Linked DNA regions of Homo sapiens: regions 1 and 3 are each reported to be linked to region 2. Evidence: microRNA targets listed by miRTarBase, many of them from high-throughput screens and not tested one by one. Region 2 holds a microRNA gene; each other region holds the end of a gene's coding sequence. Distances are between the middles of the regions.

Region 1 (11,008 bases), not on the chromosome of region 2:
TGGACCTCCTGAGTTGTTTGTTTTTTTTTTTTCTTTTTGGCCAGAGATAGGTCCTGTTTTGTTAGTAAGACTGCCATTTCCCTATGTTTCACAATGCCGTCCTATGCACAAACATCCTCAAAGAGTTGAGGCAGCTGATTTTAACTGATGTTACAGAGAGCTGTGATAGCAAGAATCAAGTTTGAAAAGTAAGGTGGTCTGGAGAAAGGAACAGCTAGGGTGGTGATCAAAGTAGAGAAGAAAAGGCAAACATAAAACCAGCCTTCTTAACAGAGGTATGCCTTTATAAAACACATACACGCTTTTTAATTTTATGATCAAATTCACCAAAAAGGTCCTAAGAAATGTTTTAGTAGTTTATATAGATTCTTCATAAAAGAGCCCTCTGGATGGCAACCAAACAATTTTTAAGAGAAACTATAAAATCAAGCCCACCAAAATAATATATTATTTTTGGTTAAGTGTCTTCACTTCACAGGAAGCATCCCAGAACTGCATTCCATGCATTTTTACTAGTGTCTGAAACTGTCAGGATTTTATTCTCATTCTCTCGTTCTTTTCACATAAACCCCAGGTAGAAAGGCATATAAAGATGAACTTGACATTTAAAAAGTCAAACAAATATTTATAAGGAAGAAAGAAGTTATGAGAAAGACATGGGGACAGCCATCCTAAATCCACTTTACTCCTTCATTTACCCTTATACTGCAACCTAGGAATTCTTTATAGCAAACAGAGTTCCTGAGATGTTCCACGTGGATAAAATGTAACAGAGTTAAGACGTGGATTCTGTTGAGCTGAAACTTAACTGCACCCAGGGATGCTTTTCAGGATAATTATGTGTGTAGGGGAAAGACACACTCAGGGCAAATGTTGTATGGAAGCCTTTTATAAGTGCTCATGCCCATGTCAAAATTTTAAAAAACAGCATATAAATGAATATTTGCTCTACCGTAAGTGGAAGAGCAAGGAAATAGAAAATTTCTCCTGCCCTCTTCAACTTTTCATGCCTATGAATATCAGTGCACAAAACCTATACTCAGTATTTTTTTTAAGTATAAAAGTTGATAATGAAGACAGAAATGATTTGTGTCTGTCATTTCAAGCTCCTTACAAGAGTCTAGTATACATTTAATGGTTACTACATACAGACCAAAATGAGAGCATATTAAATCTGCCCTCAAAAAATATGCTGCAGCAAATAAGCAAGCTCTTTTAATCAGTATAGGTTCCCTTCCTATAAAATGGTGTGTTTGGTGGCAAAAAAAGTCAATGTTGCACTTATACAGAGATATTAAATGTTTCTCTGGCATCAATGTGAACATTGATGAGTTCCCTATCCCATACCCTTTACCAATACCTATCGTCAACATCTAGGAATAAGCCTCAGAATGGCAATGCATTCCTAAAACAAGAAATCTTCAGGAGCTTAGGAGGTCAGTTTCCAAGTATGAACTGAAGGGAAAACAAACAAACAAAAAAAGGCTTAGAGCTGGAATTACAAAATCAATTGTCTACAAAGGCCAAGAACGTGATGAAAACAAAAGAAACGAGCTGAGTGGGGACTGACGGAGGTGAACTGTTTTTAAAAAGGCCCTTGCTCTATTCTAAAGGGGGGCAGCACCTAGACAAGTCTAGCTGAAATCAGGACATAATGATGCTATGCAGAAATCAGAACACAATGTTACCAGATGTTCCAATCCTTCAAGAAAAACTGAAATTTGGATTTTGTCAATTCTGATTTTTAAAAACAAACAGATTTTTAAAATTTTGAAATATTGTGTGAGGTTAAGAAGGTGCATTTTGCTGGCGGTGGTGGCTCACATGTGTAATCGTACCACTTTGAGAGGCAGAGGCAGGAGGATTACTTGAGCCCATGAGTTCAATACCAGCCTGGGCAATATAGTGAGACCTCGTCTCTACAAAAAAAAAAAAAAAGAAAGAAAGAAAGAAAGACAGGCCGGGCGTGGTGGCTCACACCTGTAATCCCAGCATTTTGGGAGGCCAAGGAGGGCGGTTCACTTGAGGTCAGGAGTTTGAGACCAGCCTGGCCAACGTGGTGAAACCCCGTCTATACTGAAAATACAAAAAAATTAGCCAGGCATGGTGGCACATGCCTGTAATCCCAGCTACTCGGGAGACTGAGGCATGAGAATCGCTTGAACCCAGGGGGTAGAGGTTGCAGTGAGCCAAGATCGCACCACTGCACTCCAGCATGGGTGACAGAGAGAGACTCTGTCTCAAAAATGAAATGAAATGAAATGAAATGAAAAATAAAATAAAGTACATTTAACATCCCACATTCTGCCCAAGGGCTGATAATTTGCAACGTAGGATTTAGAGGATAAAAATTAGGTTACACATGTGAGACTGGAAGGAATGGACCTGCAAATATATTTGGCCTTCTTGGAATGGAGGATTAGAATAGGAATGTAGTAGATTAAAAATACAGATTATGAATAAGTAGTGCTAACTGCTAATGTTCTTTAAAATCAAAGTCCTACATCCAAAATAATAAAAAGCAAGGAGACTGAGTATCTCAAGGCCTGGGAGCAAATGTCAGCTTAGCACAGCATTTGGTTCACAAAAGGACTTTCAAAAGTTTGCTGAACTCAACATCCCTGAGTTGAGGATCACATATATCAAGTTAAAATTGAGAAGCCAAAGGGTGGTGGTTCTCAGAGGACAATTTTATAAGCAGGAATTAAAAAAAAAAAAGTTAAAGTAGGAAGGAAGGTTAAAGGCAAAGGAACTAGTAATCTTCAAGAGACTAAATCAAGGAGAGGCAAGATGAATTTGTACAAAGACTTTAAGGGCAACAGAAGATGCAGAGAAGGAACAGAGTTTTGCAACCAAAAACAGAAGACGAGAAAAGATGACAGAAGACTGGAAGGAATTTAATTATGGTCATATTTATATACTGTTATCTTCTTAATTCTTAAGAGACAGAGTCTTGCTCTGTCACCCATGCTGGAGTGCAGTGGCATAATCATGACTTACTGCAGCCTCGAACTCCTGTGCTCAGGAAATCCTCCTGCCTCAGACTCTCAAGGAGCTGGTACTACAGGTGCATACTACCATGCCTAGCTAAGTTTTATTTATTTATTTATTTATTTATTTATTTATTTATTTATTAGAAATGGGGTCTCACTATGTTGCCCAGGCTGATCTCAAATTCCTGGCCTCAAGCAATCCTCTTGCCTCAGCCTCCTACAGTGTTAGGATTACAGGCATGAGCCACCATGCCTGGCCTTGTATCTTAATTCTAATGTGATTATTTTAATGTTTGTGAAAATCAGGATGATACTTACAAATCACTGTCATTTCTCTACCAACCCTCCTTAAAAAAACTGTTCTAAAAACAATAATGAAATCTTACAAGTAACGACATCTTTCAATCATGGAAATATGACATATGTAAGAGCTGTCCTTTCTATAGAATAGAAAATAAAAGGTGAGTGGGGGAGGGCAGCAGATTTCAAAGTAGCCTGTAAATAGACGGTTCCAATCAGATATGATAACATTCTTAAAGAAAAGGAAGAAAAACAGACCTGACCAACCCTGGAATGTATCCAAATAGAAAGTAGCAGTCAACAGCCAGAAAAAGAAACTATCAGCCAGGCATGGCAGCTCATGCCTACAATCCCAGCACATTGGGAGACCAAGTCAAGCAGATGGCTTGAGTCCAGGAGTTTCAGACCAGCCTGGGCAACATGGCGAAACCCCGTTTCCATTTAAAATTTTTTTTTGTTTTAAAATAAACTATCGGCCAGGTACAGTGGCTCACGTCTGTAATGCCAGCACTTTGGGAGGCCGAGGCAGGTGGATCACCTGAGGTCAGGAGTTCAAGACCAGCCTGGCCAACATTGTGAAACCCCGTCTCTACTAAAAATACAAAAATTAGCCAGGCGTGGTGGCACGTGCTTGTAGTCCCAACTACTAGGGAGGGTGAGGCAGGAGAATCGCTTGAACCCGAGAGGTAGAGATTGCAGTGAACCAAGATTGCACCATTGCACTCCAGCCTGGGCGACAGAGTGAGACTCCATCTCAAAACAAACAAACAAAAAAAAAAAGAAACTATCAGCCAGATGGCCCAGCACAGTGGCTCAGACCTGTAATCCCAGCACTTTGGGAGGCCAAGGCAGGTGGATCACCTGAGGTCAGGAGTTCAAGACCAGCCTGGCCAACATGGTGAAACCTTGTCTCTACTAAAAATACAAAAATTAGCCAGGTATGGTGGTGCGTGCCTGTAATCCCAGCTACTCAGGAGGATGAGGCAGGAGAATCTCTTGAAGAATCACCAGGAGAATCACCTGGAAGGCAGAGGTTGCAGTGATCCAAGATCGCACCATTACACTCCAGCCTGGGCAAAACAGCGAGACTTCTTTGTCTCAAAAGAAAAGAAACTATCAACCAGAGTCTCACAAAATTAAGAGTCTACCCAAGAAGAAAGTATCGTACAAAGTTGTCAATGAGGAATTCAACAGGATGGACATCCAGCTAGACATACTTTTAAAAGAACATCTGAATCTAGAAGTTTTGCTATAAGACCACGAGCCAAATATCTAACCCTGACCAGTTTTGTCATCCCTTTGTTCCTAAGAGATTACACAGAGGGGTAAAATACAAATTCATGGTCAGTGCAAGAAAAACTCAAATCTGTAGCATAACCTTCACATACAAAAGAATAATATTTGGGTACTGAGTAAACAGAGATATATAAAATCACTGTGAAAGTTGTCAGTGACAATGGCTGGCTCATTCCTCATGAAGATATGAAAGGTGGGCTTTTTGTTTTTCTTTTAATAGGGAGACCACATGTGACAGCAAAATGCCAGATTAAAAGAAAGGTTAAAATGAGGATTAAGAGTTTATGGCTCACCAGAGAAGATAGTTGTAAGGTTGGGATGGGGGTAGGAGCAGCTAGAATTGAAGAATTAGCAGTAATATTTCCTTTTAAATCTATTAAATTCGAAATGTTCTTTTATAACTCTCATTTACCCTACTTTACCCTAATCTACTTACATAGCAAGCACCAAAAAAGCAGGAAAAGCACACCATTCATCATGTGTTGACTATAAGGCAACCTCTCGAATCCCTGCTTTGCAGCCAAAATAAAGATGACAAAATCCATACCTTTAAGCCCATACCCTTATACAGAACTGGCTCTCAGACATTTCTCACTTGTAATTTAAACACTGGTAAACAGCCTTGGTTATCTATCTGGTCTCATAAAAGATTAGAAGCATCCAATAATATTAGGGGGGAGGTATAGACAAGCAAGGATACTTAATTAATTAATATATTAACGAAGTATAGAAAAGCAAGTATACTTAATATATTAAGAAATGATGGCTAACATGGAAGCAAGAAAACGGGCTATAAAAAAGCAGAGTCGGCCAGGCACAGTGGCTCACACATGTAATCCCAGCACTTCGGGAGGCTGAGGCAGGTGGATCACGAGGTCAAGAGTTCAAGACCAGCCTAGCCAACATGGTGAAACCCCATCTCTACTAAAAATACAAAAATTAGCCGGGCGCGGTGGCAGGCGCCTCTAATCCCAGCTACTCAGGAGGCTGAGGCAGGAGAATCGCTTGGACCTGGGCGGCAGAGGTTGCAGTGAGCTGAGATCGCGCCACTGCACTCCAGCCTGGGCGACAGAGTGAGACTCTGTCTCAAAAAAAAATAAAAATAAAAAAATAAAGGCAGAATCAACAGCCTCAAAACACAGCTGTCTGGAACCATTACATTTAGGGGGCAAATTGTCCTACGTACTTCAATAATACTAAGGCATCACCAAACAGTAACTATTCAGATTATCTTAAGTGCTCAAAAAAGGCGATGTTAGGGTCTGAACACTGTATCCACTATGATGGAAACACAATTTATTTAAGATGGGTAAAATACTTTTTAAATCTCACATAAAGCATTAAGTGCATTACCTAAAAAAAGAAAAAAAAAGAAAAAAAAAGTTACACATTGTAAATTCCAGAACTAAAAACACAGACCATATTTTCTGTTGCAAAACATGGGCAGTGGTAAAAAAAAAAAAAATGGCACGAAAACTTAAAAATCTTTGGATAAGACATCAGCATGAGAAAGCAAAAGGAACAGAGAACACTAAAGGATAGAAAGACTGAGGATAGTCAACTGGCTCTGTTGACTAATATCTTTATGACCCTCTTCAACTTAACCTCTCAGAGTCTGTTTCTTCACTTATAAAATGCAGATACCACTACCACCATTTACAAGGCAATAAGGACTTTAAAAACATAATTAATTATCCAGAGAAGATGGGAATAAGTGGTGAAGAGAAAGCCAGATGTTCTTAAATATATCTTGGTGCTTAAAAAAAAAATGTGTGGCTAATCAGCAAGCTTAAAATGAAAACAGCTTAAAAATAACTCTGAATCTTGTTTTGCATCTATACCCGAAGACTTGGTCGTTATATTTAGGTGAAAAAAACAAGTAGTTGTAGCTTGTAAAATGCATCTAGTTTTTCAACATTATCAGAACTCATTTTATGTTTCTATCATTAAGTGAAAAGGTGGTGAGAGAACACTCACCTTGATGGAAAGTCTTCATTATCTGTGCTTGTCCGAGGACTTATGAGTAGATGACAAATTAAGGGAAAACAACTTTTGGGAATGGCGGAAAGAACAGCATCTCCCCTTTTAGTACAGCACCTCAGGTTGCAGGCCTAAATGGGCTCTGACCAGCCTGGTAGCCTCAAACTCTACCAGCTCTGCTTGTCTGACTCATCATTTTGCCCTTCTATTCCCAATGTCCCCAGCCCTAGGGACTCTCTGTTCCCTTTCTTCCTCTCTGTGATAATATAACCTGAAAGACTATAAATCCCTTAGTGGCATAAAACATCTCAGTCACCACAGAAGTATTTTTAAATATCAAGAACATCAAGTATCCCACTTCCAGATTTCACACATTTTGAGAGTTAACTGGAAAGACCATTTCAAAACTAATCAGCCCTTAAGCATATAAACCACATACTAAAAGAGTACAATTGTAAACATGACCAGTATCAAAGCTTTCTACTACACTAACTGAAAACATCAAAATGAAAAGGATATTGTTTCTTCTCTTCCTTTCCTCCTGAACTGTCCCGTTTCTCTTTCTTTTCTATCTTTTCTTTATCATGCCTGGACTCCTATAAGAAATAGTAGAATTAGCTGGGGAAGGGAAAGCCAAATATAAAAGCCAGCTCAAAACCCCTTTTCATCACCCGCGAGCTATATTTGTCTTCAAAAACTTACTTAACATGACACCAAAAGCATAAGCAACAAAAGGAAAAAAATAGATACATTGAACTTCATCAAAAGTAAAAACATTCATGCATCAAAGAACACTATCAAGAAAGTGAAAAGACAACCTATAGAACTGGAGAAAAAATTTGCAAATCACCTATCTCATAAGGATCTAGTATCCAAAGTACATAAAGAACTCTTACAACTGAGCAACAAAAACACAAACCCTCAAAATAAAAAATGGTCAAGGTATCTGAACAGATTTCTTGAAAGATAAACAAATGGCCAATAAGCACATGAAAAGATGTTCAGCATCATTAGTTATTAAGAAAATGCAAATCAAAACCACAATGAGACACCACTTCACACTTACTGGAATGGCTATAATAAAAAACAAAAACAGAAAATAACCAGTGTTGACAAAGATGTAGAGAAATCTGCACTCTGATACTTTGTTGGTAGAAATGTAAACTGTACAGCCACTGTCTAAAAGATTTTGGTGGTTCCTCAAAAAGTTAAACATAGAATTACCATATAACCCAGAAATTCCATTCTTGGGCATATATCCAAGATAATTAAAAATAGGTGTTTGAACAAATACTTATAGCCCCACACAAATGTTCACAGCAGCACTATTCACAATAGCCAAAACGTGGAAACAATTCAAAAGTCCATCAACTGAAAAATGGATAAACAAATGTGGTATATTCATATAATGAAATATTACTTAGCTATAAAAAGAAATGAAGTAAATGACACATGCTACAACATGGAAGAACTTCAAAAACATTATGCTAAGTGAAAGACATCAGACACAAAAGGGCACATTATTGTACTATTTCATTTATATAAAATATTCAGAATGAGTGAATCCATAAAGAAAACAGATTTATGGTTCCCAGGGGCTGAGAAGGGGAAATGGGAGTGACTGTTTAAATGGGTATAGAGTTTTCTCTTGGAGGTGATAAAAATGTTTTGGAACTAGATAGAGATGATTACACAATACTGTGAATATACTAAATGTCACTTAAATGTACACCTGTAAAATGATTAATTTTATGTTATTTGAATTTTACCTCAATTAAAAAACACCTAAAAGAACAGCCTATCTTTTAAAGCATAGAATTAAAATGTTCATTATATAATTTTCTAGAGCTGTTTTTATGAACTATGAATAAATGGCATATATTTTCAATATATATAACAATGTTTTGGAAACAATTTATACTTTAGTAATGGCTTGCTTATTACTTTATGGCAGATGCGTGAGATTCACTTTAAATATCAACCATTAATATGTAAGAGAATGTATCTTATACTCAATTTTTAAATCAAATACAAGTATCAAACAAATGAGTTTATTAGGAGAAAACGTTACAAAAATGTTTCAAATCACAATCAAGACTTTATGATGCTATGATGGTCAGAGAGAATACATGTGACCATATTTTAATCTCAGGAATAAAGAGAAACTAAAAGCAAAGAGTTGGTGGAGAAAAAAGAAAATGCAAAGAACAGCTGAAACTCAATCAACAGAAGTAGGTGGGAATGGAATGGAGAGGGGAAAGGAATCTCAGAGGTATACTAACTCTACCCTCCTGGTAATCTGGGACTGAACTGACTCAAATTCCCCAAACGGAATGCCCTCCCTCAATACCTCTTCTTCCCACTCCTAAATAATGAACAAAAGACTATAGGACTAGGAAAAAAATTCAATATTTGCTAAATTTTCAGGATTGATTTTTTTAAGATAAAGCATATTATTCCTTTATTTTCCTAATTTACCTTTTTGCCACCGGAGGAGATTTTATCCATCTTCTCAGATTTAAATGAATCACTGCCTTTTTCTTTGCCTGAAGATTTTGACTTATTTTTTTCCTTGTCTTTCTCATTTGGATAAGGAGATTCACAAGGACTTTCACTTTTATGTTTTGAAACCCCCACTAAAATTACAAAAGAAAATCATGAAAGCCTTTTCCAATTCACTTCGATGATATCTTCAAAGATATGAATAAGTCTACCTACTTGTTCCATTCTCCTCTTTACGTCTCTTGGTTAAGTCCGGTGGCACTTCACGGTCGTTGTTTGAGTGATCCTAGAACCAAGAATTGTGAACTACATTGACCAAGGGCTTCTGTTTTTGTTTTAAAGTATTACTTTTATATGAGAAGGGCACAGCTAACTAGCAATGGAGAGTATTTGCAGTAGTTTCACATACTTGGTAAAATGGCATGAAAGACAAGCAGAGCTGACAGAGATTACTAGGCTGAAGATCCTTATTAACGTAGAAAATGCAAACACTTCAGGGTAAAAATATCAATAAAATCATGAAATAACAGACTACTATGGAACAAACTAGTATTTTTTAAAAGGCAACATACACACTGGTGTACATGATAATGAGCTTTCCAAACTAGTTTAAAAAAAATTTTACAAACCCTTTTCCGCTCTTTCCTGTCCTTTTCATCTTTTTTCTCTCTTTCTCTGGATCTTTCCCTTGACTTGTCCAAATCTTTCTTGTCCATTTCTCTCTCCTTACTCTTGGACAGTGGTGGAGGAGTATGATTAATGTAGAGCTGTTAAATTAAGGCAATATTACTAAAGATTATTAGTTTTCCAGTATTGGCATCACTTGTTTGTTTACTAAATGAAACACAATTGGGAATTATACCCAAAGTAAAAACTGGTCAGCTATCTGGATTACAAGAGGTAAAATAAAAGGGCATGGCACAAATTATACAAAGGCTTCAATTCTTGGCCTTATAAAAATCACCATTTAAACTCCATCAGTTCATTTGTGCCTCAACTGAGACTCATTAGTAAATTCACAAGCTAGAGTATTCCTTATAGCTCTATTGTAAAGACCTATAACCACCATTACAAGAGTCCATATATGAACAATAGTGACTGGAGTTTCTCTACTGTTTAAAAAAAAAAAGAAAAAGAAAAAAACACCTCTACACAATCATGGAAATTTTAAATAGTCTTACCATCCACCGATAGGCAGTCAATAATGGCAATGGGCAAAAGTATAAAAATAAAACCTAGCTATGATTTTGCTAATAATTCTTTTCTGCCTCAGTGTGAACCATGCAAAGATTATCTCAAATTATTTTTACAAATGTAAAGGCTGCATGTTCTCTACTTCTGAAAGCACTCCAATTTCTATCAAAATAATCACAATTAACTGTGAAATTTGTCTTCCTGGTTCTAAATACCTCAGAAAGCCATCTAGTCAGCTGAGGATGACTAAACAATTCAAAAGACTAAAAAATAATGAACCAATATTCTCCTCTGCCTATTCTTTCTCTGCCAAAAGGGCTATACGCAATAAAACAGCCAATCATCAAGGATATTCTAACTAAATAATTGAGAGATAACCCTTCTTAGGTGAGTTGTAAATATGGAAATATGCTGTAACATAAAATATTTAGGAAGTAGTCAGGAAATAATCAGATACCTAACCTTACGGCATTTATATCTGTGCTACAAGCCTATGTTTAATTTAAGACATTAAAAGTATTATGCAGCAGAATACTGAATATAACTCATTACATAACTACACAATGCTAGATACACCTTAGGAACAAATAGAATAGTGAGTCAAAAGTCAAATATTTTTACATGAAGAAATCCTTTGGTATTCAAAGGAATACATGAAAAATGAAAACCATCAGTTTGAGAATTAAACACTTATTTTTTAACACCACCAAACATTTTCAATTCAGTTGGCTCAGAAATACTGC
Region 2 (11,008 bases):
TTCCCTCTGCTGGTCCTTCCTAGAGCCACCTGGAAGAGAAGAAAGCAACAAGCTTCCTGCCTGCCAGAAGCCAAATGCTAGTGCAAAGTGAGCCTTGGGGGTAAGGTCAGGGAACAGGTGCAGAGAAACCTGGAGCTAGCTACTTCGGACTCTGATACTGCATAGGGACAATGAGGATGGCTGTGCCTCAGGGGGGGTTTGTGATGTCTGAGGAATGCATCTCAGAGAAACTGGGTCTGCTGAGGCAGCAGTATACCCCAGGTGGTTGTGCCTAGTGCACAGTGGGACAACGTGCTGGACTCTCTTGTCCTTGGCCTTAGACCCAAACCCTCCCAGTGCCTTGGCTCCCCCTTCACCCCTAACAGTGGAGTGCTAAGTAAAAAGAAACCTCAGTTCTTTTTATCAAAGAGCCTTGCCTAGATAGGCAGCTTGCTTTGAAAGACAGTCATTCAAACCAGAAAAAGGAGACATGAAAAGCTTACTTTTCTCTATAATTGAGGAACAGAAGAATATAGTAAGTAAATCATAATAGACTAAATCTCCTGAAAAACTCCTACATTGCAAGTTTCTTCTTGAATACACAGTTGAATTTGCAAAAATAAATTCCTAGGGGTCAAAAATGAAGAGGAAGCCCACAACTCAAGAGGTAAGCAGCCTCATCCTCAAAATGTACAAAGTAAAATGTGAAAAAACTGCAAAAAGAGTTACGACCACACTAGCATACACAAATTTCAACACAAATTTCATACACAAATTTCTATCATTCTTCTCAAATGATAGATCAAACATAAAAATTACCAAGAATATAGAACATTTGTACAATACAACTAGCAAATGGGATCTTATGGACAACAAGAAATACACATTCTTTTAAAGTATACATAGAAGCAGGCTGGGTGCAGGGGCTCATGCCTGTAATGCCAGCACTTTGGGAGGCTGAGGCAGGATTACCTGAGCCCAGGAGTTTGAGACTAGCCTGAGCAACACAGTGAGAACTTGTCTCTACCTATATTTAAAAAATAAAAAAAATTAAAATATATAATAGAGGTAAATCAGAAATGTTTAGAAGTTGGATGGTATGACCCAGAACTGGGGTTTTAATCTGGTATAGAAGTTGATTTTTGCCAAGGAGCTTGCAGAGAGATTCACCTCAGTTCTGTGCTGGGTTATAGAGGATGGCATCAGAGAAGAATTTGAACACTTGAGACTGGAAACAAATGCACGTAGACTTGTAATAGCTCAAGAGTTCAATGCTACCCTGTAAATTGGCCTGTGCTTTTGAAATGTCTCAATGAAGACAATCTGACTGTCTCGTCCACTTCTTTCTCTCTGGTTACTCTGCTTCAGTTTAACCAGGGGCATTTCTGATAGAACATTTCTTCAATGTTTTTGCTTTTTGAGGATGGCATGAAAACATTCCAAGATTTTCCTTTTAGTGGAAAGTCGTTAAGTACTAGGGTATAATTCTAGATTCTAATTCTGATGACCAGACGTTTCAGGAAGCACCAGATGTTGAAGGTAAATCTTGAAAAAACCCTCCCAGCATCCAAGGAAGACTCTCCCTCTTAGAATAAAGCCCTAAACATTCCTGGGTTCTGATCCAGAAGCATCCTGCTTTTCTTGGCTCAGCAGTGAGTTTGTCCAATTGTTGGCCTAGGATCCCTCAATCTGAAGTCATTGATACAGCCACAGAAACCATGGCCAGATGTAAGTGGACAAGAAACCATCTTAGCTTCCAGGTGTTCACAAATACTCCTCAGTAGGAGCTGTACCCAAATGTCTCTGCTTCAAGTGCCAGACCCACTCAACTGTTCAACCATTCGGCTAAAGAGAATTAGCTGCTTCATGAAAAAGTAACTATGTACAGATCCCAAGGTTCAAGTTCAACAGATAGGGTTTCCGCAAAAACTTTATCATGTAGACAAATGCTACCTCTCCCCTACTGTTCAACTTTGACGGCCCAGTAGAAGGAATGAGCCCATTAGCACTAAATCCATACCAGTACTTAACTTTACCCCGGGCCCAACTCTCAGCCTAATTATACAACAGTCCCATCTCTGAAAGACTTTTCAATTGTGATTACGCAACCCCACAGGTACCCAGATTATCTAGAGTCTCTGTCAGATACAGGTTCTGAAAAGACAAATTTTCTCAAAGACATTTTAGAATCCCAGCAGCCCAGGCACTGGCCAGAGAGGAGGATGTCCACCGAGGCTATAAAGGGCCCTTCAGTGTTCCTAGCTCCTCCCCTCTCTGGAATCTTCTAGCTAAAGCCATCTGCTCAGCCATCCAGCTGGAGATGTTACCCCAGGGAGCTTTGCAGCAGAGAAGCCCGTGGTGGTTGTTGTTCTCAGGTGTCAGGGATAGGGATGGGAGCAGCTGCTAACCTTGCCCGGGCCTTTCAGTTCCACGCTGGCGGGATGCGGCAGGACCAAAGGTCAAGAATTTGTCTGGTCTTGTCGTGAGAAACTAGGCCCACCATAGCTTCCCTTGGCCCTGTCTGCACCCCATTAATTGTTCTCTTTTCCGTATTTTAGGATCTACTCTTGATATCCAGGCCTTTAAGATGCTTGCCCAGAGGACAACCATGTGCTTAAGCTTCTTTCATACTCCCTCTCTGCTGCAGACTTGCTGTGGATGAACTGGCCCCGGACACTTGTTGAATCAATCCCCCTTTAACCTGTGCCCTCTCCCTGGATTCCAAACCCCACATGCTCAGGGGAAGTTCTTGGTACTCTGGATTTATTTATTTATTTATTTATTTATTTATTTATTTATTTATTGATGGAATCTCGCTCTGTCACCAGGCTGGAGTGCAGTGGCGTGATCTCTGCTCACTGCAACCTCCACCTCCTGGGTTCAAGAGATTCTCCTGCCTCAGCCTCCCAAGTAGCTGGAACTACAGGTGCACGCCACCACACCCAGCTAATTTTTGTATTTTTAGTACAGACGAGGTTTCACCATGTTGGCCAGGATGGTCTCGATTTCTTGACCTCATGATCTGCCTGCCTTGGCCTCCCAAAGTGCTGGGATTACAGGCGTGAGTGCGCCCAGCTGGTACTCTGGTTTTAACTGTTCCCAGCTTCCTCACCAGACATCCAGAACTCTAGCTGAGTTGCCCCTTTAGATCACAAGTAATTTTCTTTATAAAGATCATCCATGGTTTTTGGAAACCCACTCATGAGATGAAAGTAGACGCCCAGCCAGGCTTGGAGGCAACGTGGAAGACAGAGTGACTCATGGGCTCCCAAGAGAAGGGTGAATGGTTCTGCTCCAAGGGTGGAGAACAGCTTTGCTCTTCCAGCTGTGGCTCCTTCCATATTTATCTCTCCAGAGAGAGAGGGGGAGCACAAGTCAGGGAGTCAATGAGAAGTGGGGGGATCCAGGGGTCTGGGGAAGGGCATCTGGCTAAAGCCCTGCAGCTTGAAAGAGTGACTATCCCAAGACAAGCAGAGGGTCAGAAACCAAGCCGGTAGAACTTGGGATGGACACAAAGATGAACAAGTAGTTCAAAGGCAGGCAGGAACCTGGCAACAAATACTGAGAATCAGGCAGCAGGGCCAATCGATCAGACAGGCAGGAGCCCTGTGAGTTATAGGACTTGGAACAGGACATGCCAGGCAGGCAGGACAACAGTGAAGGGTCCACATAGCCCAAGAAACATGAGGATGCCTCCTCCTCTACGCAGGTCTCCAGGGAGGGTAGAAGCCTGGTCCCAGTGCAAGCTTAGAGAAGGAGGGCCAGGCTGCAACAGGACTATGTAAGGGGGAGGTGGACCACATGACATCGCCCTGGATTCCCAGAGTCCTCATGACAGGAAGTGTGGAGTGGTACAGAAACTACAGCTTTAGAGTAAGCCAGGCAGGCAGTGATGGCAGGATGCTCGGAGGTATATACTCGTCTCCCTCTGCAGTCCTCCCTCTATACCCCCCTTAGATCCCAACAAGGGCAAAGCAAAATGGGGTGTTGCCTAGACCTGTTCCCTCCCATTCTTCCCCAACCCCACCTCCTTTAGGGTGAGCAGACACAGCACCATTTGATCATGCCCCTATGCTGAAATGCCTCAATAAAACAAAACAATGACAAAAGAATTGACTGAAACCAACTAAAAGCCACAACAGAGACAGGGTCTCCAGGCTGCTAGGATATCCCTCTCAGACTTCTCCCATCTGTTCTGCTCCACAGAGGCCTCCCAGCTGAGCCCTGCTGTCAGGGGAGGGCCCCTGGCCCCCTCACAATCTGTCATCTTTGACGCTACTTGGATCTTATTTCTTCTAGAGCTGCCAGGGGCTAGGAAGATACCTTGCCTGTGTGTGGGTAGGGGCCAGGAGGGCCATGCATGCCATCAGCACCAGGGCTAGGGTAAGGGGGGTATTGAGGGGTGGAAGAAAGGGATTCTGGGTTGTTGGGAATCCCGGCTAAATCTCAATTTCTCCATACTTTCCCCTTCCCTTGGGCTGCCAAGCCCTCCCATCTCCTGCCATCTGTGACAGGTGTCTCTGGGGAGACCCTCTTCTTTCTTGCTTGCTAATCACTGCATATAGACACTGAAAACAGGCTGGACTCTCTGCTCCTGGCAACTGTGTAGACATCCCTTGGGCTGATGTGAGTTCCTCTCTGTGCTGCCAAGGGATGGATTCTTCCTGCACCCTGTGCACTTTCCTTTCCTGGGCAGGTGGCCATCTCTGCCTGAAGACCTGGACCCTCAGCAAACCTGGCTGGGGGGCAGGGGCAGGCAGTGATGAAAAAACAGGGGGAGGTGACCACTGACTGCTGCTTTGAAGACTAGGTGTGCTGGGTGCCTCCAGCCCTGACCCACAGAATTAGCCAGTGATCCAGGCCCATGGACCTGAGTCTGAATCCTGGTTCTGTCCCTCACTAGTTGTGGCACTGCCCTTTTCTGGGCTTCAGCGTCCCCATCTGTAAAAGAAGCAAATGAGCTAGATGATTTCCCGCACCATCCTAACACCCTGTAAGTTAAAAATGATTCTGTTGATCTACCACTTGCATTCTTCTGGCCATTTCTCTACTCTTTAATCAAGACCCTGCTGTGACTGGTAGCTGGTAACAGTCACCTGTGAGGTAGCTGAAAGGACAGAGGACTGCCTCTGGTGCTGGGATGGTCCCCTGGGTCTGATCCCAAGACCCTGGTTTCATTACTATCACATCCTGAGCAGCTGAGTGAACCAGGCAGCTGGGAGGCAAGGAGACTAGTCATTTCCAATTTGATTTAAACCTTTTGTTTCCCAAGTCTCCTCAGCAAGGACGAAAGCAAACACTCAAGCAATATCCTGAATACTTCCTGATCATTCATTCATTTGGACATTCATTCATTCAACCCTTATGAGGCAGTACAACATCATAAGGAGTCACAGGAATTAGTTTGACCTGCTTTCTAAATCTGGCTCTGGCACTACTTAGCTGAGTAATGCTGGGCATGTTATCCGACCGCTGTAGGCCTCCGTTTCATCTCTAATATGAGGAAAATAATGGTGCTACCTACTTTACAGACAGTGCATCTAAAGCATCTGGCACACACTAGTTGTTATCATCATCAAGTTGAGTAAGTTGCTCATGGTTTCACGGGGAGACAGACGAGCACATAGCTGCCCATCACTCAGTGTGTGCAGGTTTCTTAGCAAAAGACAGGCTCCTTGGTTCTGAACGTCAAGAAAATAACTTCAACAGGAGGTTGGGGGTTAGTTTGTGGCACAAATCACTCATCCTTCCTAAAGAAAGTGAAGATGGTTCGTGGAAGCTTGAAACAGATTCTCAAATCATTAAGTGATAACAAAAAATCTATTCTTGAATTGATTTGCCCAGCTCAGGTGTGGGGACTGCCATTTTGGAATGGAGGCTCAGCGTGTGTGGTCTCGGGAGAGGGAATAGAAGGTAAGTAAGATCCTGCTCTCACAGAACGGGCATGTCTGATTCCCTTCACGCCTCTCTTCCCCTACATATCCCAGCCTGAGCCCCCATGCAGAGGGCAAAGCAACATCTAATTTGCCTGTTTCTGGCAGCTCTTGGACTTGCCAAAGCCTGTACCTGCCGCCACACATGCCCCAGAAGCCTCTGCCTGCTCCTTCGGGATGCTGCAGAAAGTGCTGACTGCGGATGCCGATTTACCGCTTCCCATTAGCCAGGCCTCTAACAGCCTCTGAGAGCCTGTGCCGGACACAGGCCCACCAGCCAGCTCTGAAAGGTCAGGCCCCAGGAGCAGGAGCCAGCCAGAGGCTTTGCGAGGCAGGCCTCGCACAGTGACCCTGTTGATGTGCCATCCTTTATTTTGTTTTAATAACAAAATGGCCTTATTTATCTTGTTTTAATCTGACAGCCTGAAAATTTCTCTTTGCGCTTGTTGAAGACATTTAGGTGGTCCTGTTTACCCTCTCTTGTCTTCAGACATCATAAATGATGCCCTTAAAAGTGTCCACATGCTGTCTGAGCCAGAGGTGCCCAATGCACATGGCTCTGAGGATGACCTCTCCCATCCCTGACTCCCATTCTTGGTTGGCTGATCATGGACTCAGTATGGAGGGCACTGGGAGAGGAGGTGGGATGCCTGAGCATCAGGCCTGAGTCTACCAGTGCTTGCCAGGATGACCTTGGGCACATAATTTAATCTCCTTAGGCCTCAGCTTGCTTATCTGAAATAGGAATAACTGTTGTCCTACATGTTTCATGATTATTGTGAGGTTAATTATGAGAGGTCCCCTTATAAAGAAAACAAAAATCATGAAAGGGACCTGCAAAGAATAAAGTACCTTAAAAATAGCTTTGGACACAAATGATTTCAGGTGTTGGTCTCACTGTCCCCCTAAGGTGGAAATTGCACAACCTTCCTGAGCATGAACAGCATGGCTCACATGCTCCAGCATCACCCCACCCTCAAGTCCTTGGCTTGGACAAACTGTAGCTCCTTCCCCCAGCCTGAGTGATACTGTTACCAAAGAAGGGCTCAGGGATAGGACAGGAAGTCCCCATAAGGATGTGGCTAGGCTGCAGGCATCATGCCTAGGGATTAGGAGCAGCCAGGGTCCTGGAGGCTTCCCAAAGTCTACAGCTTAGAGGAGAACAAGGAGGGTGACTTCTGAGTGACATGACGTCAAGGGGGCGGCGGAGGGGGGGGGGGGGCTCCAATGCCTTCCTCTGAGTTTGAACAGAAAACAGCCCTGGCTCCAGATGTACAGAGCAAGCCTTTCTCCTCCCCTCTATCTTTGAGTGGGTTTGTAGGGGAGGTTTGTATAGCTGACATGCCAGAGACCCCTCTCCAGAGTCTGAATGCTTCTCTGTCCAGGGAAGTTGCAGGGCCACAGCCACAACCTCCCTGTTCCTTAAGGCTGATCCACAGTCATCCTCTAGCAATAATAACGAGCATGCTCTGTAATAACAAAAATCACAAGTGTTGATTCCTAATCCGTATGGCATTAGGATGGGGAGATCTTATTACTGTCCATTTATGTACAGGCAAACTAGATGCTGGCTTATTAAGGGACCTGCCAAAGGTCATGCAGCTGGCACTGGGACCCAGATCTTCTGACTGGAACCCTGCGCTGGGGAACCAGCAGCTAAATCTTCCACTGGCACAGTGAACAGTTCCAACTGGCATGTACCCCAGAACCTAATGAGGGAGCAGGGTCCACATGGGCCTCGAGAAAAGGAACAGTGCAGGAATTCTTGGGAGCCAGAGGTATGTCCAATGAGCTGATGACAAAGCCAGGGGTCCCTTCCACCACCAGATGGGAATCCTTGTTCTCCTTCTCTTCCTAATCATCCACCCGAACAGCAACTGCCCGGAGAGTTTGAGGGATGAATAGCTATCCATATCCAGTACCTGGGTAGTCTGGGTGACTGTCTGCTGGGGCCCAGGGCTGCCCATTAGGGCCTGAAGGTGTAGGCACACGGCTAAAAGCTACAGCCCAGACCAACCAGCTTGCAGCCCGAGAACTGAGGATGTCGTCCCCCTGCTCCCAAGGAATGTGCTCCTCAGCATGAAAGGAGCTTATTCCCTGCTGTCTTTACTCCTGGCCCCTCACAAAGATATGGCTCTTACAGCTAACCACCAATGCCATTCTCAAGGGGAATGCAAGGAGGTTCACACACATGATCTCAGAGCAACTTACTCTGTTTCCAAAGGAGTGAGGAAATACAGAAATCAGAGAAAACCAATAAAGCTAGGTCCATTATCACTATTTTGCAAAGCAAGTTCAGAGAACCCCCTTCCTGGGAGATAAGGCCATCATCTATTAGAAACAGAATACTAGTCAGGTGTGGTGGTACATGACTGTGGTCCCAACTACTCGGGAGGCTGAGGTGGGAGAATCACTTGGGCCCAGGGGATCCAGGCTGCAATGAGCTGTGATTGTGCCACTGCACTCCAGCCTGGGTAACAGAGCAAGACTTATCTCAAATAGACGGATAGATAAATAAATAAATAATTTTTAAAAAGAACCAGAGTAGTCAGAGCACATGAGCTAGACTCCTGGCACGGCTCCTTGCTGGCCATGAGGCCTTGAGCTAGCTACTGAGCATCCCTGGACCTCACAATAGGATAACTTCCCTCACTGGGTAAGATTTCAATGAGGCCATGCATGGAAAGCACCCTGCACAGTGCCGGGCACATAGACCTTTCACGTGTGTTATTTCCCTTCTCTTTCTTTTCCTTCCCAAACAGCATCTCCAGACGTTCCTCGATCTGGACAACTCTCCTGGCACAGGCACACTCACACCTTCTTCACTAAAACCCAAAACAACAACAACAACTCTAGAACCATCCTTAAATACCACACTGATTTGGATTAGTGAGAATAAGAGGCAACTTGCCTGATGACTCTGCCTCTGTGGGGGAATATCCCACTCTGTGGGCAGTTCTGCTGCTGGTGTGCAGGCAGGCACCAATCCCTTCCACGGACCCTCAGCACCACGAGGACTCTGCTTCTTTGTAAGTATTCACCAGGATGCTCTGCTACTGCTAATTTCCTGTTATTTATCTTCTCAAAGGAGTCCATAATAACCAACTTATAAATGACAGCCACTTCTTGTGGCCTGCTTGGTGTTAACACAACAGAAGTTGTGGCCCCTCTGTTATCTGTGACAACTTTTTCTTATCAGTAGATCAAAGTGGTCCAGGGAAGGAAGCTGGGTAAGAAGAAAGCCATGCTATCAACTACTTGGAGCCTTTGGGCAACCCTAGGCTTCCTTGCAAGAAGCTTTGAGGAAAAGAGCTAGGTGCATGATGACAGTAACAGCGGCCATAACTACTAACTTTTCTTGTGCTGATATGAATGGAGGGCTGACCTGTCCCCCTCACAGGCCAAACTGTGGCAGTATATAGAAAGCCAGGACACAGGGTCAGAAGACATGGCTTGCAGTCTCAGCTCGGCCACTTACTTGATGTATGGCCTCAGGCAGGTTACCCAACCCCCTGAGACTCAGTTTCCTCATCAGTAAGATCAGCATGACAATAGTACCTAGTTCCCAAGAACCAGGGGGATCAGATGAGAGGGTCAGATGAGGGGGTCAGATGAGATCAGAATGCAGTACGAATTAGAAGGAAAGGGGATATTTGGGACTGCACACCCCACACCAGACTTTGCATTTCCCTTTCACTTGCCAGTCTGCATCCTTAACCTGGAACATGATGCCTCTGCAGACCTGCCCCTAAAACAGCATTTGTCCCTGCTGCCTGTGGAAGGTCACTGATACTTTGCAGTCTGATGCCCTCACAGTCCATCTCCTGTCCTTGCTTTCCCCAACCCATCCAGTGCCCTGGAATGCAGATTAATATCCCAGGCTACACAAGCCACAATTTGTTAACTTCCCATTTGTTTCTCCCCCTCTACATCTTTCCCTAATCATTTGTTTCCTCCCCTATCTCTCCAACTCCTCCTTTGACTCCAGAGTTGTGCTTTATCTCCAGTGAGCTTAATGCTTCCCTGATAAGACCAGTTAATCCTCTGCTGCTCCTCTTTTGCAGAGATGGAGGAGATTAAAGGCAAAGGGTCATCTCCCTTCCAAGGGCACTCAGGACTTTAATAAAGGAACTGGATCCTGCTTTCCCATCTGATGCTCTAGATTGGCATCCCCAGTGTTTCTGCTGAGAAGCAGTTCTGGTTATTTCCAGACCGTGAGCCTCCTGATTGGAATGAAATGGAAATGGCGGGGGGAGAATGGGTATTGGTCAAGTGGCCTGGAGACTCATCAGGCTCCCTGGACAGATGGGCTGATCTGGTCCTCGAGAGCAAAATGCCCAACTGTGTGACCATCTCTATGGTCACCAATGAAGGTCACACTTAAAGCCACACTGGGCATGTAGCAGCATGTAACTGGTAACAAAAAGGGGAGCTCTAGCTTGGGGGACATAACTGTACTAGCCAAGGCCTTTAGCCTTCTCCTCCACAAGTCCGGGATTAATGAGTTAGTGATGCAGGTGGAACAGTGCCACAACAAGGTCTCCTTGGGTACACACTGAATGCCACTTTACAGCATGTAGGTGATACGAGAGCAAGGCTTCGGTGTTTGCTGAACACCACTCCCAGTGTACAGAACACCTCAGGGAGACAGAGGAAGTGACAGAAGTAAGCCCTGTGCTGAGAAACAAACCATCTGGTGGGGTAACACAGGACAAATAACGCAAAAGCACAGCGGAGTTAAACTATATATTAGTGCTAAGTAACTGCTGGAGTGTCTTGGGTTCAAGATCTTTGTGGGTTCAGGCTTAGGTTTAACATGAAAAGCTAACTTTGAAGAGACATTATTTGTTGAAGAGGACAGACTATTTGAGGTCAGAAAAATAGTTTATTCGTTTATTTTGTATCAAATGTTTCTTGAACATCTGCTATGGGCCATGCACTGTTCATAAACAAGATGGACATGACATCTGCTTTCATGAAATTTACACTGTAATGGACAAGTCAGAAATTAAGTAAACAATTATATTCTCACTAATTATATTCTTAGTAATGGTAACCAGTATAAGAACAGCGCATCTTGAAGGAAAAGAACAGGA
Region 3 (11,008 bases), 13 Mb from region 2:
AAACAGAAGGAAATTAAGAACATACACTATAGCATCTGCATAATTTTAGATACTGGTATTCTTCATATAGTTCATCCCTATCTGGGTATGTGAAGAAGCATCTTGATTGTGAGATTATTGTGGACTCCTGGGCATAAATATTTGGTAGACATGGGAAAGGAAAATGAAACATTTGTCAGATGAGTTTTTATGACTCAGTTTAGTTCGTTTCCAGTATGAAAATCATCCTTTTAATGTAATGACTGCTTTGCCTTATAGCAAACCGTTAGATTAAATGTATTTAATCTATTAAAACATACATGGTTTTGATTCAGAATCCTTTTCTATTCATGTGAAGGGAGGCTTAGTACAGTTGACAAAAACTTCAGCATTTATAAATGCTGTACATTTGATAGAAGTTGCCCTAAGAACAATTAAAAGGTAAAACTCATTATGCAAATTGGTAGCTTCATTTAACTATTCCTCTTCAAGTATACAGAGTTTGCATAATGCTATGCTTTATTCATTATGTCTGCAGAGGTTATTATGGAAAGAATATATCCATGAAATATCTATAGTGCATAGAAAAAAGGTAACCGCTAATGATTTCTTAACATGAGGTATATGGTCCAAACTAATAGTTTTTTCTCCCCTAAAAATGAGAACCAAAACCTACCAATTTTTGTGAAGCTTGTAAAAGGGAGTAGAGTCCTATATGCTGGTAAAACTCTTATTTTGATACCACCAAATTTATCTGTAGTTCAATGTGGATTAAATTATAAGAAGTAGAAATGTTTTCTCGGCTCTCAACTCATCATCCCTTGAAAAATTGTCTCTTCTGTTGGTTTGCATTCAAGGTAAAAATTAGTCAGCTTGGACAATATCGTGAAAAATTCTTAGAATAAGGATATAATTTGTCTAGAGAGGAATAGTTGGCAAATCTGAAGGAAAAAATTGCTTTATAAGAGAATTATTGCTTTTAAATCTGAAAGTCATTAACAACACTTATTTGTTCTTGTCATTGGAGAACAGTCTTAAGGGGCTTGTTGAAGAATTTGGCATGGTAAGTTTTATTTTGCTGACGAGAGCAAACTAGAATATTGTGAAAAAAATAATTTAGTTATATGAAACATCATAAATATTCTTTAATGTGCTTTTTCTAAGCCTCATTTCTACTTTATGTACTACAAAGATGCAGTAGCTCGACCAAGAAAGCATATTTTGGCTAGGTGCGGTGGTTCATGCCTGTCATCCTAGCACTTTGGGAGGCTGAGGCAGGTGGATCACCTGAGGTCAGGAGTTCGAGACCAGCCTGGCCAACATGGCAAAACCACGTCTCTACTAAAAAATACAAAAAATTAGCTGGGTGTGGTGGCACACGCCTGTATTCCCACTCCAGCTTGGGTGACAGAGCAAGACTCCATCTCAAAAAAAAAAAAAAAACCATATTTTTTGAACTGTGGAAATCAGTAAATTGTTGCAGTACTCTGTACTGCTTCCTATTAAGTAGAAGCAGAATGTAACAGAAAAGTTTTTGTAAAATCTCTAGCCCTCTGTAGAATGTGAGTATACTCTTTTGGTGGATCTAGATATGACTCCTTTTTCCTGTTGGAGAGAGACTTCTTCCCCTTCCCCATTTAATTTTTAATTTAATATGTCAGGTTTTCATGATAGTACTTTTTTGTTAGAAGAGAAATACTTTTCTTATAACCCTCTGTAATATAGTGTTCCTTGCCTACTGCTCTCTGAAAAGCACCCTGTTTATGATATTTTCATTAATCTGTCTCCTCCTCAACAGAATGTAAGCCCCTATTTGTCTTGGTTTAAGGGTTTATCCTTACAGCATCTAGAACAAAAGTAGTCATATAATAAATGTTTCTTGGTTCAACTAATTATCCCTTTCTAGCTCTTCCCATTGTTTCAGTGATTTTGATTTAATTTCTGTTTAAACAATAAATGTATTTGTGTGGCATATTTGCATGGGTCAACTCCTTACCCACCCCTGATTTTTTTTGTTGTTGTTATTTTGTTTTGTTTTTGGTGCCTCAGCTGGCACCTAGTATTTACTTAGCACTGTGCTTGGTGCTAAATATATAGCAAGAGATTACAATGGGCTTTGTCCCTGCCTTTATAGAACTTAATATCTCTGGAATTACAAAGGTCCAGGATATCATTAACCTCATGAATAATCTCTCCTCTTTTCTATATCCTGGAAGAGATGCATATCATTGCCTTGTGCCTTACATTGTTAGTGGTGTCCTTATCATAGTTAATGACATTTTTAAAGCATACCTAAAATGATAAGAATCTTACCGATTTGGTTTTCAGTCGTTTTTGCATATATTGAATTGTTAAATATTCAGTAGAATATAGTTATTTAGTTTTAGAAATTTCTAACTCATGTAAAAATGTTTTCAAGAATAATAGTTTTGTATTCATATTTCTATTCAGATAATTTCAACAAAGTCCAAGTCTTTTTGCTGATCTGTAGGAATTAAAAGGAGATTTTTCCTCTCGTTTGATAGAATTTTTCTTCAATATGTAAGGCTCTGACACTGATCTCAGAAATGCCTGTTGGTCAATAAATGTCATTGGCTTTTAATATTTCAAGTTTTATTCCATTTTCCTTTCTTTAGTTTGATTTGTCAATAATATACATTATGGATTACCTTACCCTATTCTTTTAATTATATGTTGTTATATATTGTATACTAAAACAGCAGTAAAGCATCTTCACTGATTTTCTTTTGGATTTGAGAATAAGCTCTGACCAAATGGCAGCTAGCCCCTTTTCTTTAGCCAGAATTACATCCCCATTTTCCATTACCTCATTTATATATTTTTTTACCCTCACTCTTTTATATATTTAAAATTCCTCTAAATTCTTTGTTGATATGTTTTCTGAAGTTTACTTTAGACCAAAGACTTCTGAAATAAAAGAGCTGGGGGTGGGGTTGTGTTAATTTCATCCCCATGTTCATAGTGTTTTCTTTAAGTGCCTTGTCTTTCTAAAAAAATAAGAACAGCAGCTATACAGATCTGCATGCTAATTGTAAACAGAATCAGATTCCCCTAACAACAGTTTTACCAGTGGTGTTTCCAACTGTGAATATTTCAGTGATTTGTTTTGTAATTTTTTTAAGCAGGCTTTAGCAGGAAAGTAATAATTTCAGTAACATTTATTCAACACTTAGGCCTATATAGCTGACACTGTACTTTATATAGATTATCTAATACATAACAGCAGTTTTATAAGGTAAATGATACTTGTATTTTACAGGTGAAGAAACTGAGACAAAGGAGTTTAAATTGACTTGCTGTAAAGATACGTATTTCATTCACAGCTCAAAGAAAGCATTATGGATTACATTAAAATTTGGGGTATCTGTGTTCAGGTTAAAATTTTGAGTTCATTCATCAGTCTTTCCTGTAATTATGTGTACAATTATAACTTGATAACAGTTAACTCCACTGATAAAACTAAAAAGTGGCCGGGCATGGTGGCTCATGCCTGTAATCCCAGCACTTTGGGAGGCCAAAGCAGGCGGATCACCTGAGGTCAGGAGTTCGAGACTAGCCTGGCCAATTTGGTGAAACCCCATCTCTACTGAAAATACAAAAATTAGCTGGGTGTGGTGGTGGGCGCCTGTAATCCCAGCTACTGGGGAGGCTGAGGCAGGAGAATCACTTGAACCCGGGAGGCAGAGGTTGCAGTGAGCCGAGATTGTGCCATTGCACTTCAGCATGGGCAACAAGAGCAAAACTCTGTCTCAAAAAGAAAAAAAAAAACTGAAAAGTGAGCTAGTTTAAGATAAGATGGCCATTTTTTCAGGGCGAGGTCATAGCCTTGTAAGTGGAATCATTGTTTTCTTACTTGGTTATTTTTCACAGACACTAGAATAAAAAGACTAAAAACTTGTTAGGGTATAATAATCTTTAACTTACTACAAAGATTAATTTAAATATATGTAAACCATATTACTTTAGTACAGATTTATAAGTTATTTAAAATGTTTTTATGATTGTGGAAGGTTTATTCTGCTGCTTATATTACCAGCAGGAGTCCTAAGAAATATAATGCTAAGAGAATAGCACTCTCCTGTCATGACTCAGAGTTAAGTAAACAGTAGAATGAAAATTGATCTTTATTCTACGAGGCATGAAGCCCAGAGATAGTGTATTTGTAGGTGTCTACTAAATTTCAAGTTGCTGTCTAATTTTGGCATTTTCCAAAATCTCAAATTTTTAAAATCTGCTTCAGGAGGTCAGGTGTTCTAGGCAATGATGGCCTCCCATTTAGTCCAGAATAGAGTCTATATCTGTTGTAGGATAAAATTCATTAACTTATTCTTGACTGGACACAGTGGCTCACACCTGTAATCCCAGTGCTTAGGGAGGCCAAGGTGGGAGGATCACTTGAGGCCAGGAGTTTGAGACCAACCTGGGCAACACAGTGAGACCCCATCTCTACAAAGAAAATACGAAAATTAGCTGGGCATGGTGGCATGCACCTGTAGTCCCAGCTACTCAGGAGGCTAAGGTGGGAGGATTGTTTGAGCCCAGGAGTTCAAGATTACAGTGAGCTAAGATCATGCCACTGCACTCCAGCCTGGGTGACATAGTGGGACCCTGTCTAAAAAAAAACAAAAAGAAAAATTAAGTAAAAGAATCCTTCTATAAACCAGCTCTAAGAGAAGGTTGTAGTTCAGTCTTACTGAAGATAAGGCAAACCCATCTTTATTCCTAGATGACCTGCAAAGTAGGTAGCTCTTGGACCTTACCTACCACACAAATGAGCTAACCTGGTCTTTCACAAGACTCTCTTTAGGCTGAAATTCATACTATGTCTCTTCTTGCCTTAAGTTTTCTTTTTATTTTTGGTCCAGCCACTTAACTGCCTACTATAACAGCTGTCATGGCTTTGTTAGATTTGCAAGTGAAGATAATGGATCAATGTAATTTCATACCCGAAAACTTGGATATTGTTTTGTTTTTTGAGAAAGAGTCTAACTCTGTCCCCCAGGCTCGAGTGCAGTGGCATAATCTCGGCCCACTGCAAGCAATTCTTCTGCCTCAGCCTCCCGAGTAGCTGGGTTTACAGGCATGTGCCACATCTGGCTAATTTTTGTGTTTTCAGTAGAGATGGGGTTTCACCATGTCGGCCAGGCTGGTCTCAAACTCCTGAGCTCAAGTGATCCACCTGCTTCGGCCTCCCAAAGTCTTGGGATTACAGATGTGAGCCACCACGCCTGGCCCGGATATTGTTTTTAAAACACGTTTGTTGATCACCTACTCTATGCAAGGTGCTATGATTTGTATTGCAGAAAGTACGTAGATGAGTAGTAATAATATGATAGTTTAAATCTGAGTACTTACGAATGTCAAGCATTATTCTTAATGTTTTACCTGTATTAACTCATTTATTTGATCGTCACAAAAACCACGAGCTAGATATTCTTATTATACCCCATTTTATAGATTCAGGCTGAGATAGGAGTTTATAAATTGCTCAAGGTAACACAGCTAGCAAGTGGTAGAGCTGGGCCACAGACCCAAGCAGTTCTGACTTCAGAACCTACACTAACTATCATATAATACCGCTTCTTATTCTCTCCTCTCAAGAAACTTAGTTGCCCAAGTTATTATGCTGTCTAGGAACTTCAGAGTAAAATAAATCAGCTCTCTGAAGGAGAGCAGAATGGGCCCATTGGCTAAGGCAGTTTAGCATTCAGCCTAGTTTTCCAAGGTTGTATGTTGACTTTCAAATTCTAGTTTTAATGATATTCTTCTGTGAAAATTCTGTAAGGCTTGTCTTTGATAAAGTTTTGGGTGTTTAAATGAAATGATATACTGCTTTCAATAACTGAGAAGCCTTGGTAAAGTTTTATTCACTTAAGATTTGGTGTAACAGTTAGATGCCCAGTTCCTTCCAGGAATCTTATAACAGATTCTTTGGTTCTGAAGGAAGTGGAGAGGGACTGAAAAACCAGTTTAAGATGACCACAGGTAAAACAAAGAATAATACCACTATGAGGTTTGGATATTTTGTTTAATTTGTTTCACCAGAAGTTTTATTTTGAGATGTGGCAGATGAAAAACATTGGTCATGTTGATGGATTTGAGTTGTCCAAATGATTATCTTCACATTAAGCTATTCCCATGCATAGTTTGCCTCACACATTTCAATTCGAGGTTTTCTTTTTGCTTAAGCAAAAGTTTCATGAGCTATCTTTAAAATTTTAACTTCACAAATATATTAAGGCAAGGTCACCTCTAAGCAGTGAATATGTATTCCTGAAAGGAAATTGTTCCAGAAAGTCACTAGTAAAGTTGTTGATTGCAAAGATGAGTTAAAGACACTGTGAGACTAAGCGTTACATACACTGTAAAATGAAATTAGCAGTTTGGACTAAGCTATGCCCCTGTGGCTTCTGCTCTGGAGCTGTTGAATTCTCAGTATCGGGAAAACAGCCAACAGTTCCTTGAGTTTGTTTTAGTCCCACCTGTTCTGAGCATGCACTAATACTTGTAAAGCTGTCCAAACTTTCTGATTTGAATTGCAGATTGGTTGGGTTTTTTTTTCTTTGTAGTAGTAAGATCAGTAAATTAGAAAAAAAGTAATAATAAATTAGAACTATAATTCAGATCTGTAGCACACTAAATATTCTGCATTTTTGTAATACCAATATTTTGCTGATTTTAGAACTACATAAAATGCATTTCTGGAGATTTTGGTGTTCAGCATATCATATGAAGATAACACTGAAAAATTCATTCATAGATTTGTCTTTATAAATTGACCATTTAAATTATGCATGCATTATTTTTGGGTTTTTTTTTATTTTTAAAAATGATATGTATTTAATACTATGGGTCATGTTTTGGGAAAATCAGCATAGGATATATTATTAAGAATTCAGATTTAATCATTACGTGTGAAAGGCACAAATTCAATTTGAAATAACTTTTATTCAATGGAAGAAGCATTTTCTATTGGCAAAACTAGAGGTTTCTCCCTAATTTTCTGTCTGTATTTTTATAAATAAAATGCATTATTTGGCTGAAATTTTAAAAATATTTTTTTCACTAGACGTTAGAGCAATCTTAGATTTTAAATAAATTGTTAAGTATCTTGAACATGTTATTTATGATTTAAAATATAGCTAAGATTTGCTTTACATTGTGGCAAATATTTACATTTTAGAAAACAAACTTTGTATTTAGTCAACATAATTTTTAAAATAACTAGGTTGTGGATACACATAATTTTCTGCAGTAATTGACGACAGATGAAACTACATTTATAGGTTCCCTTTTATAGTTACGGTAAAATTCATTTTAAAAACTTTCTGTGTAGAAATAAATTGTGCCAAGTAATATACATGTAACATTTACATTTTTAAGAGCTGAAAAGTACAAAGTTCTGTGTCATTTAAATTGGCGAGTGTCTCTCTTCAGTCAATAGGCTTGATCATCATCTGAACTGCTCTTAAGGAGTATGACCCGCCTCTGTATTCGGCCCAGAAAATTCCATCTTGGTGCTTGCTTCTGTAATGGCCTCCTCTGTACCATACTCCATTTAGGTTAGAATGTGCACAGGCATTGTACCACCAGCCTCCTTTATGAAAGTGGGCGCAGTTTCCTTTGAGGAAAAAATACAGATATAAATGTAAAAGTTTCTTCTAGGTGTGGTACTCTGCAATCATAAAAAACTTATTCTACCTTTAATTTGAACTTCCCTTACTAATCCCAGTTACCTTTATCTCAGCAGTTTTAAATGCCTTCACTTACTTGATGGCTGTTGCATCAACTGCTTGAAAAATCACTTGAATTGCCTTTTTTTAACTCTTTGCTTGCTTACAATGTACTTTTTTAAAAAGGGGGATTTAATTTTCTAGTTAGCAGAGTAGATGCAAGCAGTGTTTATATGTGAAAGAGTTACAGAGGGAGAAATTGGGAAGGAAAGATACAGAAGAAGATAAAAGTCTGAGGAAAATTGAATTGTCAAAATAAAATAGCAAAAAATAATACAAAGTAAAATAAAACCAGCAGTCAAATGGGTTTCTGTAAATAAGACATATGTTATGGTCTATCTCTCCTCTTTTCTCGTTTACCAGTGTAAAATTGGTTAAAATAGAGACCTGTGTGCTGTTTGCCAAAATACAGCTGGAGAGAAAAACCAGTTTGGGACAGGGATGGGGGAGAATTGTTGGGTGGAGGGGAGGAGGGGATCTCTGTATCAGGACGAGAAGAAACCTGGGTTAAAAAGTCAAAAGCATATGAAAACTAAATTTGAAATTATGTGGATGGTCTAGTTGTTTCTTTCTAATGAAAATATTAATTTCCCCTTTGAATCAAGCTTTTTTGTTATTCCTATGCCACATGTCACAGTCATCTTGGTTTTCCCCCTCAAAGAAATGCTCTTACACCATGTATCCAAATGGCTTGCATCCTTCATTTCTTGCGACTCTTTATTCAAATGTTGCTTTCTCACAGCAGATTTTCCTGGCGAACCCATATAAAATAGCTGCCATCCCAGGCCTTGCTGCCCACCACTTTCTATTTTCTTACTCAGTTTTATTTTTGAGAGTACTTATTCCCACCTAACAAATTGTTTTGTCTCTCCTCCAGTGAGTAAGCTCCAAAGGGCGGGAACTTTGTTCACTGTTATATCCCTAGCACCTACAACAGTGCCTGGCACGTGGTAGGTGTTCAGTTAGTATTTGTTATGAATTGTAGGCACTTGCATTTTATTTCCAGATTAATGTGTTTCTGTTTTGCTTTGTGTTTTTTTCCCAGAACTTTGTTTTTCACATAGATCACACTTTGGGATTGCCTTATAGAAGAAATCCTAAAAGCTATTTCTTTCAGTAGGTTGGTTGTATTTCCTGCCACAGTGACCAAAACTGACCTTTTTGAAAAGACTTTAGTAGCATATATATTAGTAGATTCTATTTAATGCATAGAAGGTGATGATTCTACAAAGAATGAAAGTTTTTCATACTTACCTGCATACATATCTTTATCTCTGTCCAGTGTGGTGAATTGTTTACCATTATGCCACATCATAGAATCCCCTGCATTTCCCTGGTAAGTTCCCAGGCGCAGTCTATAGAATTCACTTTCAGGTTCCAGACGAAAGCTGCTGTATTCTGCATAGACTTTTTTATCACTCCAGTCTTCTAATTCAATCAATAACTTGTAATTATCTTGATTGCTAAGCATATAGATATTTTCCAGTCCAAGCCAGTATTCTCCGTCAATGTTTCCAAACCCTTTCTGTTAATAAGTGAAGAAACATGAGTGCATAAATAAGTATAGAGATAGTAAACATTTTTACAGAGCAGTGTTAAACATTCGATAGCATAAAGATACTGGCCATTTAAGTGGTAATGTGAGCTTCCATTTTAGTTGGTCACTTGCGTTTTATAAGCCACACATTGTCATTCTCTTTTTGTTTGTTTGTTTTTTGCTTCTGATATGTCAGTATTCATTTGCATAGCTAGCTTCAAATCCTACAAATAAGACAATGCAAATGAGAATAAAATTTATCCATAGCTACTAAAAATATTAGCTAGTATACTACCCAGATCCTTAAAAAGGGTTCCTGGTCTCTCTCATATTCATCTAAAGAGCCCAACATTTTTTTCCTAATAGTAATCTTTGTAAAGTAGTAAGTATAAGTCATCCAGACTGAAAGGGATCATTTAAAAGTATATCTTCTGTTTCCTTTTTGCAATTTAATTTTGACTTTAAAACCAGAGATGAGAATCATTTTTTTGACAGATGTAGATAATGAAAAAACATATGGATAGTTATTTTTAACTGTGTGTCTTATTTATTGCATAGCATCTTGTTTCTTGCATTATTGCAAGAATGGATTTGTTTTACTTCCCTTAGGTCTGCATCACTGATTTACCTTATAATTTTCCCAATTTCTGAAGAAGTTGACAGAGCCGTCTGTTCTTTTCTGAATAACAGTCCAACCCCCAGGGTCCAAACTGTTTTCACACCATAACTGCATTGGTCCATTGCTGTTTTCAGGTTTAATCATATAAATCCCACTGACCGAATGCCCAGCTTCTTTTGCTTGCTGACAGTCTTTGAATGGTCCTATAATTTAAATATCATTTATTATCAGCAAACTTAATATGAGAAGAGACATGTTAAAAGTTTTTAATCAAGATTTTTACCTTTGTGTCTTTGTTTACAGTTACCATTGTTTATCATATATACAATATTATAAAATATAACTAAATAAAAGGGTGACTCCAGTTCTATCTGGAACATTAATTTGTTTCGTTTTCATCTGTTCTTTTCTTTTCCATATATGTATTTTTTATATTGTTATAATCCTAATACATGTAGAAAATTGGATTCTGTCTTAACATTTTCATGCAGCTATAGTCTCCATTCTAGCTGCATAATAATCCTTGACATTGATATATTTTTATCCTTCTATCATTGGACATTGAGGTTTTATGGATTTTTGCTATTATAAAAACACTGCACAAAGTGTCTTCATTCTTATTGAATTCATTTTTTAATATTATAAAAATGCTGAGGGATCGATCTACTGGATCAGAGGATATCAGTTTATTCATAGTCCTACATAATACCCAAGTTACAGTTTTGGAAATTTGATTTCAGTGGAACATACTAGTACCTTGAGATACTCATTGCAAATGGGGTCAGTCAAATAAGTTTTAGAAATGCAAAATATTATGTTTCCCTTTTGGAAATTCTCAATGTACATTCACATATTAAAGACTGAAAAGCCCTGAAATAAACCAGATGCCCAAACTCATAGAATCTTAAATTTCCCCCAACAACACTTACTAACAGCCCATGAGAATACATTTCAGGAATGTTAGCATAAATGAGTATCTAAAGAGTTGTATCAATCTGTATGACTAATAGTAATTTTCTCATTTAACCTACAGTTACCTGGTGATAGTTGATAGATGTTCTAGAGATAGAACGATTAACTAAGGTCATGTATCACAGAAGATGGTAAACCCTAGATAGA

The links. The annotated mature microRNA hsa-miR-921 reads CUAGUGAGGGACAGAACCAGGAUUC and lies in region 2 at 4,858-4,882, opposite strand. An mRNA with a match to its seed (bases 2 to 7 or 8) in the 3' UTR can be bound and repressed. Matches are read on the target gene's strand: a 7mer-m8 pairs with bases 2 to 8, a 7mer-A1 pairs with bases 2 to 7 and ends in A, and an 8mer does both.
Region 1: miRTarBase lists THOC2 as a target of hsa-miR-921. The part of its 3' UTR that is shown has no 7-base or 8-base seed match.
Region 3: miRTarBase lists ANGPTL1 as a target of hsa-miR-921. The part of its 3' UTR that is shown has no 7-base or 8-base seed match.

The regions. Positions count from the first base shown.
Region 1 is chrX:123,604,352-123,615,359 of GRCh38, forward strand. It overlaps THOC2 (THO complex subunit 2), which reads right to left. Exons shown (of 39, transcript NM_001081550.2): 34 at 9,701-9,838; 35 at 9,288-9,357; 36 at 9,048-9,205; 37 at 7,089-7,165; 38 at 6,567-6,612. The coding sequence ends at 6,585. Among named protein-coding and RNA genes, the nearest start is that of THOC2, 120 kb to the right of the region's middle.
Region 2 is chr1:166,149,916-166,160,923 of GRCh38, forward strand. MIR921 (microRNA 921) reads right to left here and starts at 4,883; the gene lies at 4,828-4,883. All of the region lies in intron 1 of FAM78B (family with sequence similarity 78 member B), which reads right to left. RefSeq lists an enhancer at 137-306.
Region 3 is chr1:178,843,696-178,854,703 of GRCh38, forward strand. ANGPTL1 (angiopoietin like 1) reads right to left here. Exons shown (of 6, transcript NM_004673.4): 4 at 9,899-10,092; 5 at 8,988-9,258; 6 at 5,840-7,621. The coding sequence ends at 7,434. The region is part of intron 8 of RALGPS2 (Ral GEF with PH domain and SH3 binding motif 2); the gene reads left to right. Among named protein-coding and RNA genes, the nearest start is that of ANGPTL1, 22 kb to the right of the region's middle.